Linked DNA regions of Homo sapiens. The protein of the gene in region 1 purifies or fractionates together with the protein of each later gene. This does not show direct contact. Each region holds a gene or a part of one and is shown in the gene's direction. Other genes may lie near its edges.

Evidence for each region.
Region 2: the proteins of SERPINB6 (region 1) and PLAT purify together in Homo sapiens (affinity purification with mass spectrometry; 2 studies listed by BioGRID and IntAct, with this or other methods). This does not show direct contact.

What each region holds. Positions count from the first base shown.
Region 1 is NC_000006.12:2,961,560-2,968,593, reverse strand, and holds part of SERPINB6 (serpin B6), read left to right. Parts: intron 1-2,003; coding exon of another isoform or gene 2,004-2,194; intron 2,195-6,463; exon of another isoform or gene 6,464-7,034.
Region 2 is NC_000008.11:42,176,553-42,183,586, reverse strand, and holds part of PLAT (tissue-type plasminogen activator isoform 1 preproprotein), read left to right. Parts: intron 1-696; coding exon 697-868; intron 869-1,564; coding exon 1,565-1,650; intron 1,651-2,901; coding exon 2,902-3,097; intron 3,098-3,208; coding exon 3,209-3,345; intron 3,346-3,520; coding exon 3,521-3,661; intron 3,662-4,523; coding exon 4,524-4,690; intron 4,691-7,034. UniProt on the Homo sapiens protein: Converts the abundant, but inactive, zymogen plasminogen to plasmin by hydrolyzing a single Arg-Val bond in plasminogen.

The sequences.
Region 1 (7,034 bases):
CTATAATTGTGGTATCCAAAGAATTAGTATAGAAGGCAAAATGGAATCAAATATCATGATGAAAAGTGTAAATGAGGGAATAAGGTCAGAAGAGAACATTCATTTATATGATTTCTTCTTTTTTTTTTTAACCTTTTAAACCTCTATTTAGGTTCAGGATACATACGCAGGTTTGTGACATAGGTAAACTCATGTCGCAGGTTGTTGTGCAGGTTATTTCATCCCCCAGGTACTAAGCCTAGTACCCAATAGTTATTTTTTCCTCTCCCTCCTCCCACCCTTCACCCTCCACCCTCTGATAGGACCCAGTGTTTGTTGCTCCCCTCTTTGTGTCCACGTTCTCATCATTTAGCTTCCACTCATAAGTGAGAACATGCGGTATTTGGTTTTCTGTTCCCTGCGTGTGTTTGCTAAGGATAATGGCCTCCAGCCCCATCCATGTTTCTGCAAAACACATGATCTCATTCTTTTTTATGGTTGCATAGTATTCCATGGTGTATATGTACCACAATTTCTTTATCCCATCTGCCATGCATGGGCATTTAGGTTGATTCCATGTCTTTGCTATTGTGAATAGTGCTGCGGTGAACATTCGCGTGCGTGTATCTTTATGGGAGAATGATTTCTATTCCTCTCTCCTCTGGTTGTATACTCAGTAATGGGATTGCTGGGTTGAATGGTAGTTCTGTTTTTAGCTCTGAGGAATCGCCACACTGCTTTCCCCAATGGTTGAACTGTTTTACACACCCACCAGCAGTGTGTAAGTGTTCCCTTTTCTCCACAACCTTGCCAGTATCTCTTAATTTTTGACTTTTTAATAATAGCCATTCTGACTGGCGTGAGATGGTATCTCATTGTGGTTTTGATTTGCATTTCTCTAATGATCAGTGATACTGAGCCTTTTTTCTTATGGCTGTTGGCTGCATGAATGTCTTCTTTTGAAAAGTGTCTGTTCATGTCCTTTGCCTTCTTTTTAATGGAGTTGTTTGTTTTCTTCTTGTAAATTTGTTTAAGTTCCATATAGATGCTGGATATTTGACCTTTGTCAGATGCATAGTTTGTGAATATTTTCTCCCATTCCGTAGGTTGGCTGTTTACTCTGTTGATAGTTTCTTTTGCTGTGCAGGAGTGCTTAAGTTTAATTAGATCCTATTTGTCAATTTTTGCTTTTGTTGTGATTGCATTTGGCATCTTTGTCATGAAATCTTTGCCTGTTCCTATGTCCAGAATGGTATTGCCTAGATTGTCTTCCAGGGTTTTTTATAGTTTTGGCTTTTACATCTAAGCCTTTAATCCATCTTGAGTTGATTTTTGTACATGGTGTATGTAAGGAAGGGGTCCAGTTTCAGTCTTCCAGAGCAGAACTTTCTAACTTGTGTGTGGGTGTTGTGCCCTGGGCAGGTTAACAGATCCCTCCAACTCGAGGAGTCTGGGTGGCTGGAGCTCTGCACTGGTCACCTTTGGGGTGAGTAGCCTGGCCCCAAAGTGACATACAAACATCATTTTCTGTGTGTGTCACAGCCTGGAGAAAGGTGAGAAGTCCCAGATGATATCAGTCTAAGAGTTTTGTACTTGACAGAAAAAGAGAACAAAGAGCCAGTCTGGAGGAAATCAGCAAGTGCCTTACATTTTTTTCCCAAGCTAGGCTTGGTGGCTCATGCCTATAATCCCAGCACTTTGGGAAGCCAACGTGGAAAGATAGCTTGAGGCCGGGAGTTTGGGACCAGCCTCGGCCACCGAGCGAGACCCTGTCTCTACAAAAAATAAAAATGAACTGGGCGTGGTGGTGTGCACCTATCATATCTAGTCTTTGGACTAGAAAAATCTAAAATGGTTTGGTAAGACTTTGCTGTTGCTTTAAAGCAATGGTCCCCAACCTTTTTGGCACCAGGGACCAGACTGGTTTTGTGGAAGACAGTTTTTCCACTGATAAAGTTGGGGGTATGGTTTCAAGATAAAACTGTTCCACCTCAGATCATCAGGCATTCGATTCTCATACGCAGCATGCAACCAAGATCACCACGTGCACAGTTCACCGTAGGTTCACTCTCCTACAAGACTCCAACGCTGCCACTGACCTAACAGGAGGTGGAGCTCAGGCGGTGATGTTCGCTCACCTGCTGCTCACCTCCTGCTGCGTGGCCCAGTTCCTAACAGACCACAGACGGATCTGCTGGGGACTCCTGCATATAAAGTAAGTGTGTTTGGAGGGAAAGTAACTAATTTAAAGAGATTCCCACCAGCCAATTAGAACAAGAAGAAAAAAAAACATCAGCAAATTGAAATATATTGTTTGTAAAAAGCCCAAGCTCATTAATAAGTTCAGATGAGGCAAACAAGATGAGCCTTAAAAAGGCACAAAAGAATTCAGTAATGTTTGCACTGTGTCTAGGATTGCTATGGAAAAAGTTTAGTTATTATAGCTTCCTGGGCTAACAAACACAGTAGTTGTAAAAACCAACTTAAAGGCCTAAACATTCAACAAAAAGACCAAGTTATACCATACAACACTGGTCTATGCAACTCAGATAGAGGAAAACTCCGTATTTCATTTTAAGGAAGGACATCAGGCTACAAGACACTGAAATTTGGTGTTTGGTTGAGGCCTTATAAAATCTCAGTGAAGGCAGGATTGGAGCTCAAAGCTGCCCTAACTAGTCAGATATGCTTGGCATCAAAGAGTGTGTGCCCTGTGCTGAGAAACTGCTTTGATGCACAAAGACCATGAACCAGGGAGCCCCACCCTGTTTTTACAGAAAGGGATGATCCCTTAGGATTTAACCCCATAAGATTAATTTTCCCCATAGGAAACTGTTAAAATAAGCATTAGTGTTACCTTAGGAAAGGAATAGGAAAATATAACAAAGATAAAATAATTAAATCTGTGATATTAATGAATAACTTTTGCTAGACATAAGTACAGGTATAGAAATAAGTTTTGTAATCATTGTACTGTTTGAAAGTCTTAGGAGAGGCTAGCTTACTAGATTTATATGTCTTGATTTATCAGATTTGTAGAAGTTCAAAAGTCTACTAAGGTTTGTGCAATTTGTAAGTTTGCATAAAGCATTAAAAAATTAGACATATTAAAATATGTCATCAACACTTAAATAAGAAAAAATAATTTCTTTGCCCTGTAAGCAATGTGCTGTGTTTGAGAAAAAAAATTAGTCTGACCAGCCTGCCAAACTATAAATTGGCCATGTATTATAGTAGGGAAACTTGTCCCCGTCTATGAACATTTCTCTTCGGCGTGAAAGTCGCGCATGCTCAGCAGCATGGTGACAGACGGAGGGAGAGGAAAATGCAGCTGGTAGATTATTCCTTGTGTCGAAGCATATGAAAAAAGTACTGAAAGGGTTTGACTGACCTGTAGAACATTTGGGGAGAATTTGAAAATACATAGTACATAGAAAACTAAGGAAAGGGGGGAAAGGCACTATTAATATAAGGCAAATCAGCATTACATAAAAAGGAAATGGGTTCCCATCCCACCACCTGGCTTAGCATCGAATGCTATTTAGTGATAATAAAGCAAACCTGTGGATCGGGACCGGGCCCTCGGCCTCTAGATTAGGAAGGCAATAGATAATGTCTAGAATTTGGCCGGGTGCCTGTAGTTCCAGCACTTTAGGAGGCTGACGCTAAAGGATTGCTTGAGGCCAGGAGTTCGAGGCTGCAGTGGGCCGTGATCATGCAACTGCATTCCAGCCTGGGCGACAGCGTGAGACCCCTACCCTAATAAAAATAAATACATACATAAAATAAAACATGATAAAGTTATTAGGTCAAAAATAGTAGTATACACGTTATGTAGAAATATGGTGGTAAATACCAGAAGAAAGAGCAAAGGGTTTGGAAGTGATTGCTTCTGGGGAGTTGGGAGGGCTGAGAAGGAGCTTGTTGTCTTTTATAACATCTCTTTTAACACCACCTGATTTTTAAACTGAATGTATATATAGTAATTTCATAAAAAGAAGAGTTAACCAACCCCCTCCATAAATTATATGCTATAGAAAATGTGAAAATCCAGAAAAACACAAAAAACATAAAAATTACCGTTAGAAACATTTGGTGTATAGTATTTCCCTCTATTCTGTCTGTAAATTGTGCCTACACTTACCTTTTTTCCTAATTTACATGGATAAATTTAAATTGTATGTATAGTTTTATATCTTTTTTAATGTAATCTTGTGTATTCCCATGTCATTACTGTGATTTTTATTATTATTAGCCCTATTTATATCCCATAATGTTGTACATAATGTTTTATTATGTACAAAACCTGTGAGTTTTACCTTCAGTGAAATTCCTAGAAGTGGAATTTTTAATTCAGATAGTATGAATGTTTCCATGACATTTTCTTTTCTTCCTTCACTTTATTGTATTTTACTTTTATTTTTGACATAATTCTAAATCATACTCAGGAAATACTGGTGTACCAATTTACAGTATTGTTACTGATCGTGGGTTCTTAGATTCTCATGCAGTGGAAATTGACATGAGACAGAGAAAGTGTCCCAGACAAGGCTTTATAATGGGCTTATGCTGGAGCAGGAGGGCAGCGGCACAGGGGCAGGAGTTCCCGGGCTGGCCCTCGGGACAGGTGTTCCTGGTGTTTTAGGGTGACATGGATAGTCATGAGGTGTGTCAGCAGCATTACACACGCTAGTGGCAGGCACCGGGGAACATCATGTTAGCACAGATGTGTCATGATCAGGGCATGGCAGATGAGCCCCTGAGGAGAGGGTTTTAGTAATACAACAAGGCAAGAGGTCAGGATCGTCGTTCTGATCCTGTATGCATGTGGGCATCAGGCTTAACTCCCTTGGGTAAGATTTGGGGTGGAACATGGCTTATCTTGTTTCCCTCCCTGGTTTGCATGGTCTGGTGGGCAGGTGTGATGGCGTGGGGGATGTATGGAAAATACGGGAGTGGGTACGGGCCAAGCTCTGTCCCTGCTGCCTCCGTATTACTTGCATGGCGTGAGAAGGATTGCCTGTCTTTGTCAGTATTAGCATGAATTGTTTTTGTATTTGCAAGGTTCATGGTTTGAAAAGGCATCTTTAATGTACTCTCCACCATTGCTTTTTGGGAAGGCTGTGCACCATGGTGTTAAGAGAGTGAACTACAGAGCCATGCGGTCCTGGCTTCCAGCCGTCATTCTGCCATTGTTGCCCTGGGTTCTCTGGAGACATGGTACTTAAAGAGCTAAGGCCCGATTTCTTTGCTTATAAAACGTAGGTGTTCTCAGCAGCTATCTCAGAGGGTAAGGGTCTTTCAGTGTGGACCTAGCACATAGTATATATCAAAAAAGTGATATTTTTTTCTGAAGTTGAAACTTTTAAATATAATTATTAGCTATTGTCTTTCTTTTTTGGGGGTAAATTTGTTAATGTCCTTTGCACGTGTTTCTACTGGGGTCTGTTTTTCCTATTTTTTTAGTAGCCCAGTTACTCCATTATTTTTCAGTTTTAAGAGTATTTTACTGATTCTGGCTGCTTTTTGGGTAGACCATCAAATTGTTTGCTAACTGTGCTCATTTTGTCTCCTTTCTGACAATCTCCTTTCTCATTATGTTTCATGAGTTGTATTTGCCTTTGCCAGAACTATCTGAACAAAGTTACACAAGGTTGGGACGACAGATATTTTTATCTTGTTCCTGTTTGGGGAGTTAAGGGACTAATGTTCTATCATCAGCTGTGCTGGTGGCTGCTGAAGTAGGTAATTCTTACCTTGTTAAGGAAGCATGGGAAGTACCACTTGCTGTTTGACGTAAGGGTGTTTATCAGGAGTAGGATATTCAGTTATTTAATGACTAACATAGTTTCTGCTAAGAAAATTAAATCTCTAGGACATCCTTGATTTATTGTTTCTTTGTTGCTCAGCAATTTTTATGTAAGGCATAGATAGAATTTTACCTTTCACGGCTGTCAGCAGTGTTTTCAACTAAGAAATGGAATATCATTACTGACCTCACTGTGGGCTTTGAAAATTGAGCTACATTTTTGCTCTTCCTTCTGCATTTGGTATTAACAATTATTGAATGTTAGAGATGGAAGGGAACCCAGATTATCTGGTATATGCTTTTCCTCATACAGAGAGGAAACTGGTATCAGGAGTCCAGTGATTTGCCCAGGGTACCAGAGCCAGGACTAGAGACCCTGTCTTCCTCCTGACTCGTGCCATCTCCTCCGAATATCCTGGTCTGGTTTCTCCAGTTCAGTGTTTCAGATTAAATCCCCTGACACAGTAAAACTCATGTGCACTGACTTCTCCTCCGAATATCCTGCTTTGGTTTCTCCAGTTCAGTATTTCAAATTAAATCCCCTGACACAGTGAAACTCATGTGCACCGACTTCTCCTCTGCCCCAGATGGTGTAACCTGGGCTGGCCAGACAGGCACCTCCCCAGTGGGCGTGTCTTCAGACAAAGGTGGCTTTGCTTTGTTGAAGTTACTGATATAAAGATCAGCGCCTGAAACAGATTCTCCGGGATATTACCGGAGACGGAGTGTTTTATTATTAGCCTTTCTTAGGTGGACATTTCCATTTGAATTAAAAGTCCTTTAGGCTGGGCGTGGTGCATGGCTGTAATCTCAGCACCTTGGGAGGCTGAGGCAGGAAGATCACTTGAGGCCAGGCGTTGGAGAGCAGCCTGGGCAAGGTGGCAAGAACCTTGTCTCTACAAAAAAAAAAGCGTAAGAGTCCTTCAGCATTTGAGGGGAAAACGTGTGCTGACGGTAGAATAGTCTAGGATGGGGTTGGGGGAGCATGTGGGACCTTCCCCTGGCCAGCTGACATGGTACTTAACCTCTGTCTTTTTTTTTTGGTTTATGGAGGAGCCATCTCACCTGGCAGCCTCTCCACGTGGGCTGAGCCCTCTTGGGGACAAAGACAGAAGTCCATGTCCCCAGGCCAGGGAAAACCCCACGTGTCAGGGTGTCTGCTGGCTTTGAGTCCTGAGACACGGACTTCACAGGCTGTGCTTCTTGCTTTGGGGCATCTCCTCTTTTCTTATTCTTAACCTAGAAG
Region 2 (7,034 bases), on another chromosome or scaffold:
TCCTCAGGACACTGGCAGACACAGTCCGAGAAATAACCCCCACCCCAGCCCCACTGAAGCACGTTGGTTCACTGCAGCCTGTTAAGTAACACAAGGAAACCCCTACTGGCTTTCAAAGCAGCTTCAGAAACAGCCCCCACTCATGGAAGTGGTTCTTCCTGCTGAACCTGAAGATGTCCCCAGACTCTCTCTCAACATAGCAATCTAGGGAGCCACTTCCGGTGGAGATGAAACCCCCTTGCCATCTCTAAGTAAAAGGACTCAAAGAGGGGGAAAAAGGCTCAGGCCGGGCGTGTTGGCTCACACCTGTACTCCCAGCACTTTGGGAGGCTGAGGCGGGCAGATCACCTGATGTTAGGAGTTCAAGACCAGCCTGGCCAACATGGTGAAACCCTGTCTCAACTAAAAATACAAAATTAGCGTAGCATGGTGGCGCATGCCTGTAACCCCACCTACTCGGGAGGCTGAGGTAGAAGAATCGCTTGAACCCAGGAGGTGGAGATTGCAGTGAGCCAAGATCGCGCATTGCACTCCAGCCTGGGCAACAAAAGGGGAAGTGTGAGGTGTTACACTCTTCTCAGTGCCGGGCTAGCGGCCTCCAGCTTCCTCGACCGGCAGCTCCGCTTCAAGCCCCAGCCCTGACTTGCGTGCTTCAGAATTTGTTTTTGTTTCAGTTTGAGAATTCTTTTCTTCTAGGAAACAGTGACTGCTACTTTGGGAATGGGTCAGCCTACCGTGGCACGCACAGCCTCACCGAGTCGGGTGCCTCCTGCCTCCCGTGGAATTCCATGATCCTGATAGGCAAGGTTTACACAGCACAGAACCCCAGTGCCCAGGCACTGGGCCTGGGCAAACATAATTACTGCCGGTAGGTAGCACAGGGGTGGGGGGTTCAGGTCTTGGCAGAACGTGGGATTAGGGTGTGAGACGGGGGAAGATCCAATGTCTCAAGTTGCATGACAGACCCAGTGCGTGGGAAGCACCCATGGATATTATCTAATCCAACCTCTTCACTTGCTAGAATAACACATATTGTGAAAAGCAAGGTCTACCAGTTTTCCAACCTAAATCCCAAGTTAAGGGTCCTGGCCTGTAACCATTTAGTCCTCAGCTGTTCTCCTGACATCTTTATTGCAATGATTTGTAAGAGTTCCGTAACAGGACAGCTCACAGTTCTGTCTGACAACCCTATGAGATTAGAACACTACATTACTGACTGGGTAACAAAGTTAAAGAGAAGTTCTCCTAGGGTGGGGGTGTGCTGCAAGGTCAAGATGAACTCGGTGTCCTCCCTCCCAGCTCAGTGGTTTTCATTGGTTGACTGAGTCTCCTTCTACTCTTACATGGCCTGTGATGTGGCTGAAAATGGGATTGAAAATCTTAAACTCCTGGCCTGGTGTGGTGGTGCATGCCTGTAATCCCAGCACTTTGGGAGGCTGAGGCAGGAGGATTGCTTGAGCCCAGGAGTTCAAGACCAGCCTGGGCAACATGGCAAGACCCCATCTCTACAAAAATTAAAAAATAAGAAGATAAAAAGGAAACCTTAAACTCTCTTATCATTTAGGAATCCTGATGGGGATGCCAAGCCCTGGTGCCACGTGCTGAAGAACCGCAGGCTGACGTGGGAGTACTGTGATGTGCCCTCCTGCTGTAAGGGCTGGGCCCCGGCTGCCTCCCTGCACCTGGTCTCCCTTCTTCACCATCTCCTCGCCACTTTCTAGGCCTTCATGGCTGTCTGGTGCAGACTGTGTGCCTACCAGACTTCCAGGCTGGGTGGGGAGGGGGCTTCCATGACTGAAGCCACGGTGGGTGGGCGGGTGTCCATGACCCATGCATGGGGGTGGTGGGGAGGGGCAAGAAGAAAGAAAAGAACACAGCAACCTCTCTGAGAAGTCAGTAGGCTCTACCCGGCTCTCTCTAGACGCCTCTATTGGTGTTGCTGAGAGTAATGGGGAATGAGGAGGAGGCCTCGCATGCATGGCTCCTTAGATAATAAAGTGCCTTCACCACATTTGTCCAACAGCGTGGTGGAGGTGGTCTTCCTACCTCCAGTTTACTGAGTAGGAAGCAGTCTCCCAGACGCCAGGTGGCCTGCCCAAGCTCGCTGGGCACCGGGAGGTAAAGCTAGGGCCTGCCCTCATGCCCTCTGACCCCAATGGCATGTACTTCCACTGTGAGATCTTCCACGTTTCCTGTTGACCTATTTCACACAGGGGAGCTGGCTCATGATGTGGGTGAGAGATAGGAGATTCAAGTTGGTGCATATTGCTAAAAAATGAAACTTTAGTTTGGAAATGGCCAGAGAGTAGGTTATTAATCACCTCCTGTGAACACAGATCAGCCAGAATGTTCCCCAAGGAACACAAGTCCAACTGGGACGATGAGACACAGACCACCAGCTAACTCACACCCAAGGGCATTAGTGTGAGTCCTCAGTGGTCCGTGTCCCTAAGCTCCTCAGAGCTGAGCAGGTGGGGACGTCAGGAAAGCTTTGCGAGGAGGCAGGATTGCACCTGGGCCTTGAAGCATGGGTAAGGTTGGACAGATGGAAAAGAAATGAGCAGACATTCCACAGAAGGAAGCTGCAATTCTTCATTTCTTAGGCCAGGAAATGGCTGTAGGAAAACATTAGAAGGAATGAAGGATGGCAGATCCCCAGTTTTGGAGTCAAACATACTTGGGAACTAATCCAGGTGCCATTGCAACCTTGGGCAAAAACGTCTCCGCCTCCTGAAACTTATCGCTGTGGGAACTAAAGAGAATGTATGGACAACATTCGGCATGCTGATCCCACCAAGTGAAAGTTGTGGTTTTACAGCCATGCTGATGGCCTCCTCACTCTACCTACACACGTGCAGGAGGCCTGTGGGACTGACTGCCTCCTCGTCCTTTCCTCCCCAGCCACCTGCGGCCTGAGACAGTACAGCCAGCCTCAGTTTCGCATCAAAGGAGGGCTCTTCGCCGACATCGCCTCCCACCCCTGGCAGGCTGCCATCTTTGCCAAGCACAGGAGGTCGCCCGGAGAGCGGTTCCTGTGCGGGGGCATACTCATCAGCTCCTGCTGGATTCTCTCTGCCGCCCACTGCTTCCAGGAGAGGTAGGGGCTCGGAAACCCAGTTGGTTTTTCCACCCTCTAACGCCTAGAAACCAAGCCCTTTAGGGGAAATCCCACAGCAAAAAAAGCATTCTAAGGCTGTTTCTCCACCAGGTTTCCGCCCCACCACCTGACGGTGATCTTGGGCAGAACATACCGGGTGGTCCCTGGCGAGGAGGAGCAGAAATTTGAAGTCGAAAAATACATTGTCCATAAGGAATTCGATGATGACACTTACGACAATGACATTGGTAAGAGCTCGTCATTCCCGGCTCCAGTTCATACAGATCACACAACACACCCACATGCACTCACCTATGTTTACACACACGGGCCTCCTCCTCCAGCCCCTGCCCCTCCTGCGTGTTCCTCCCCTCCCGGGGACGCGGCCCTCACGCCAGCTCACTCCTCCTTTCTCCCTCCCAGCGCTGCTGCAGCTGAAATCGGATTCGTCCCGCTGTGCCCAGGAGAGCAGCGTGGTCCGCACTGTGTGCCTTCCCCCGGCGGACCTGCAGCTGCCGGACTGGACGGAGTGTGAGCTCTCCGGCTACGGCAAGCATGAGGCCTGTAAGTGGAAGGAAGTCTCGGCCCCATCCTGTCTGCGGGACAGCAGGGGAGGCTGCGGTCCACCAGAGGAAAATGGGGTCAGGAGACCGAAGTTCCAGCCCCGGGTCAGGCACTGACGCCAGTCCCGTCTCCCTGTGTCGTGGGGGCCCGTCTCTGCTGTCTCTGCCTCACAGGGACACTGCAGGCCAGGAAAGGACACAACAGTATGAGGGCCTCGAAGTGCTGCAGGTGTTGGGAAGGTTCTGAGTAGGAAGTGGAGTACAGTCGCTAAGCGTGTGGGTTCTGGGAAGCTGGAGTTACAAAGACCCGATTTCAAATCCCACTTGCTGAGCTGTGTGACCGTGGACATGGATTTTTATTTTGAACTGCTCCCAGCCTCAGTTTCCTCGTTGGTAAAGTGGAGATAGAACTATCTCCCTAATTAGATTAGGAGGGTTAAATGAGATAATATTGAACGAATGGATGTCAGCTGGGGTGATTTTGTCCCCCAGGAAACGTTTGGCGAGGTCTGGAGACGTTTTTGGTTGTTACAGTTTAGGGTGAGGGTTAACGCCGGCCTTCAGTGAGTGCAGCCAGGGATGCTGCACACTGCAGGGCTCGGGACTGTCCCCATCCCCCACAACAGGGACCTCCCTGGTCCGAAGCATCAGCAGTGCCACTACGGAGAGGCTGTGGGTTCAATCCCGGAATCCTGCTGTTTTTGTGGGTCAAAACGATAAAATACCAGCAGTGTCATAGGATTCGACCTAATACATGTTGAATCTTGATCAATGTTAGCTATTATTGGAAAATTTGGCTTTCTCTTTCAAAAACGTTTATAAATAACTTTCCCTAAAACCATATGATGGTTCTCCCCTTTCAGTGTCTCCTTTCTATTCGGAGCGGCTGAAGGAGGCTCATGTCAGACTGTACCCATCCAGCCGCTGCACATCACAACATTTACTTAACAGAACAGTCACCGACAACATGCTGTGTGCTGGAGACACTCGGAGCGGCGGGCCCCAGGCAAACTTGCACGACGCCTGCCAGGTAACCAGGAGTGGCGCGCCCATGCTGGGCACAACCCAGGGGAGAATGCCCCTGGGACAACAGGTTCTTCACCAAAGAAAAAAGTTATCACCAGAGTGGAGTGATTTCCTCTTAGTGATACCCCTGGGGATTCTAGATGAGGGCCTCACAGAATAAAGCAACTGGAGGAAGATCAAAGTCACCTAAACCTAAGAATTCTAAACTGCAGGAAATTTCCCCAGGATCTGCACAGGCAACTCCACCTGTACAGGATTTCCTTTCAGCCCAGGCAATTGATTGACTATTGAAGTGATGGAGAGAGCCACACAATTAAGAAACGTTTGCCTCAGCCTGGTGTGGTGGTTCACGCCTGTAATCCCAGCACTTTGGGAGGCTGAGGTGGGAGGCTCACCTGAGGTCAGGAGTTCGAGACCAGCCTGACCAACATGGAGAAACCCCATCTCTACTAAAAATACAAAATTAGCCTGGCATGGTGGCACATGCCTGTAATCCCAGCTACTCAGGAGGCTGAGGCAGGAGAATCGCTTGAACCCGGGAGGCAGAGGTTGCAGTGAGCCGAGATCGCGCCATTGCGCTTCAGCCTGGGCAACAAGAGCGAAACTCGATCTCAAAAAAAAAAAAAAAAAAAAAAAGAAAGAAATGTTTGCCTCTGTTGGCACTAGAGAATTGGAGTCTGCTTTGTAGAAGGAGAAGGAAGAAAGGCAACTTACTGGGAAGCAGGATCTAGATGATGTGAGAAAGAAGTTTTCAAAACTCACATTCAGCCCTAATACCCTGGGAAAGCACACTATTTGAGGTCCTTTGTGTGGGCATCCTTATCAGAATTAGTACTTATATTTCATGATTAGCCAGATACTGGGGTATGGGAGGACAGGCCAGCCTGCTGGTATTAAGACCTGCACAGAGCCAAGGAATTGATCTTCCTCAGACATTTCAGTGCCTGCAGCGTGCGAAGCTCTCCTTTAGGGGCTGGGGGTAGAAGAGATACAAAGAGAAGTGAGGCCAGGCTCTGGTGCTGAAGGATGTGTGGGCTTTGTTTTCGCAAGGCAGTCATATCGGCGGTTTCCCCTCTGATTCCCTGACAGGATTTAGTTTCTTTTTGAATGGTTTCTTCAGCAACCTCAGCTGTACCAGCTTACAGTCCAGAAACAAAAAGGTTGTACCAAAGTGAAACCATTATCTATCTGCAAGCTTAGTTAAAAGCAAAACCAAATCATTTTAATTCAATATAAGAACAGCTAACAATTACCAAGAGTTTTACTAGATGTCTTCCAGTGCTTTTCATGCATTCTTCTACTGAATGCCATAACCACTCTATGGGTAGTATGAATATTATCTCTATGGTACAGATAAGAAAACCAAAGCATGGTTAGTCTAAGGCCATCAGCTAGTAAGTGATGGAGCCAAGCCAGGGTTTTTGAGGCCTGAAACGTTTGAGTAATTAACTCTACTTTACCAGAATAGATACAGCCTAATCCTCCATGGGACCAAGATAACTGAGATACAATCTACCCACTCTTCAGTAAGTCTCCACTTAACAGCATGCCTGGAAAAAATAGGTTCTTAGAAACTGCAACTGTAAGTGAAATGACGTATAACAAAACCAATTTTACCACCAGCTAATTGATATAAACAAGAGTTGGTCAGGTGCGGGGCTCATGCCTGTAATCCCAGCACTTTGAGAGGCTGAGGAAGGCAGATCACCTGAGGTCAGGAGTTCGAGACCAGCCTGGCCACCATGGTGAAACCCTGCCTCTACTAAAAACACAAAAATTAGCCAGGTGTGGTGGTGCGTGCCCATAAGCACGAGAATTGCTTGAACCCCGGAGGTGGAGGGTGCAGTGAGCTGAGATTGCGCCACTGCACTCCAGCCTGGGTGGGTGACAGAGTGAGACTCTGTCTCAAAACAAAAAAACAAAAAAAAACAAAAAAAGAAGAGTGAAGTTCTTGTGGCAATATTTCTAGTCATAAAAACATCAGCAAACTTCTAAATAAAGACCCAAAACACTTCTAACATTCAATATTGAAATAAATGTGAGCTATACAACATTTAAGAAAGGTTAATAAAAACAAACATGGTATTTATTTACCCAATTTTTGGAGAATAAGTGAATGATGGCGGCCATAATAGTGGTGGGTTAATTCAGGGAATAAATGTTTGCAAAGCAAAAATGGTAAGGAACACCTCTTACTACCATGAAGTTCAAAAACAATCACAAATAGGGCAGGCTCCCTGACTGCCTCCACACCTCACAGTTTATCATGCATTCGTGTATTTAGCACAGACTAGACAGATTTTTACTTTATAACACTTTGTATTCATTCATTTTCCAACGTGCTTATT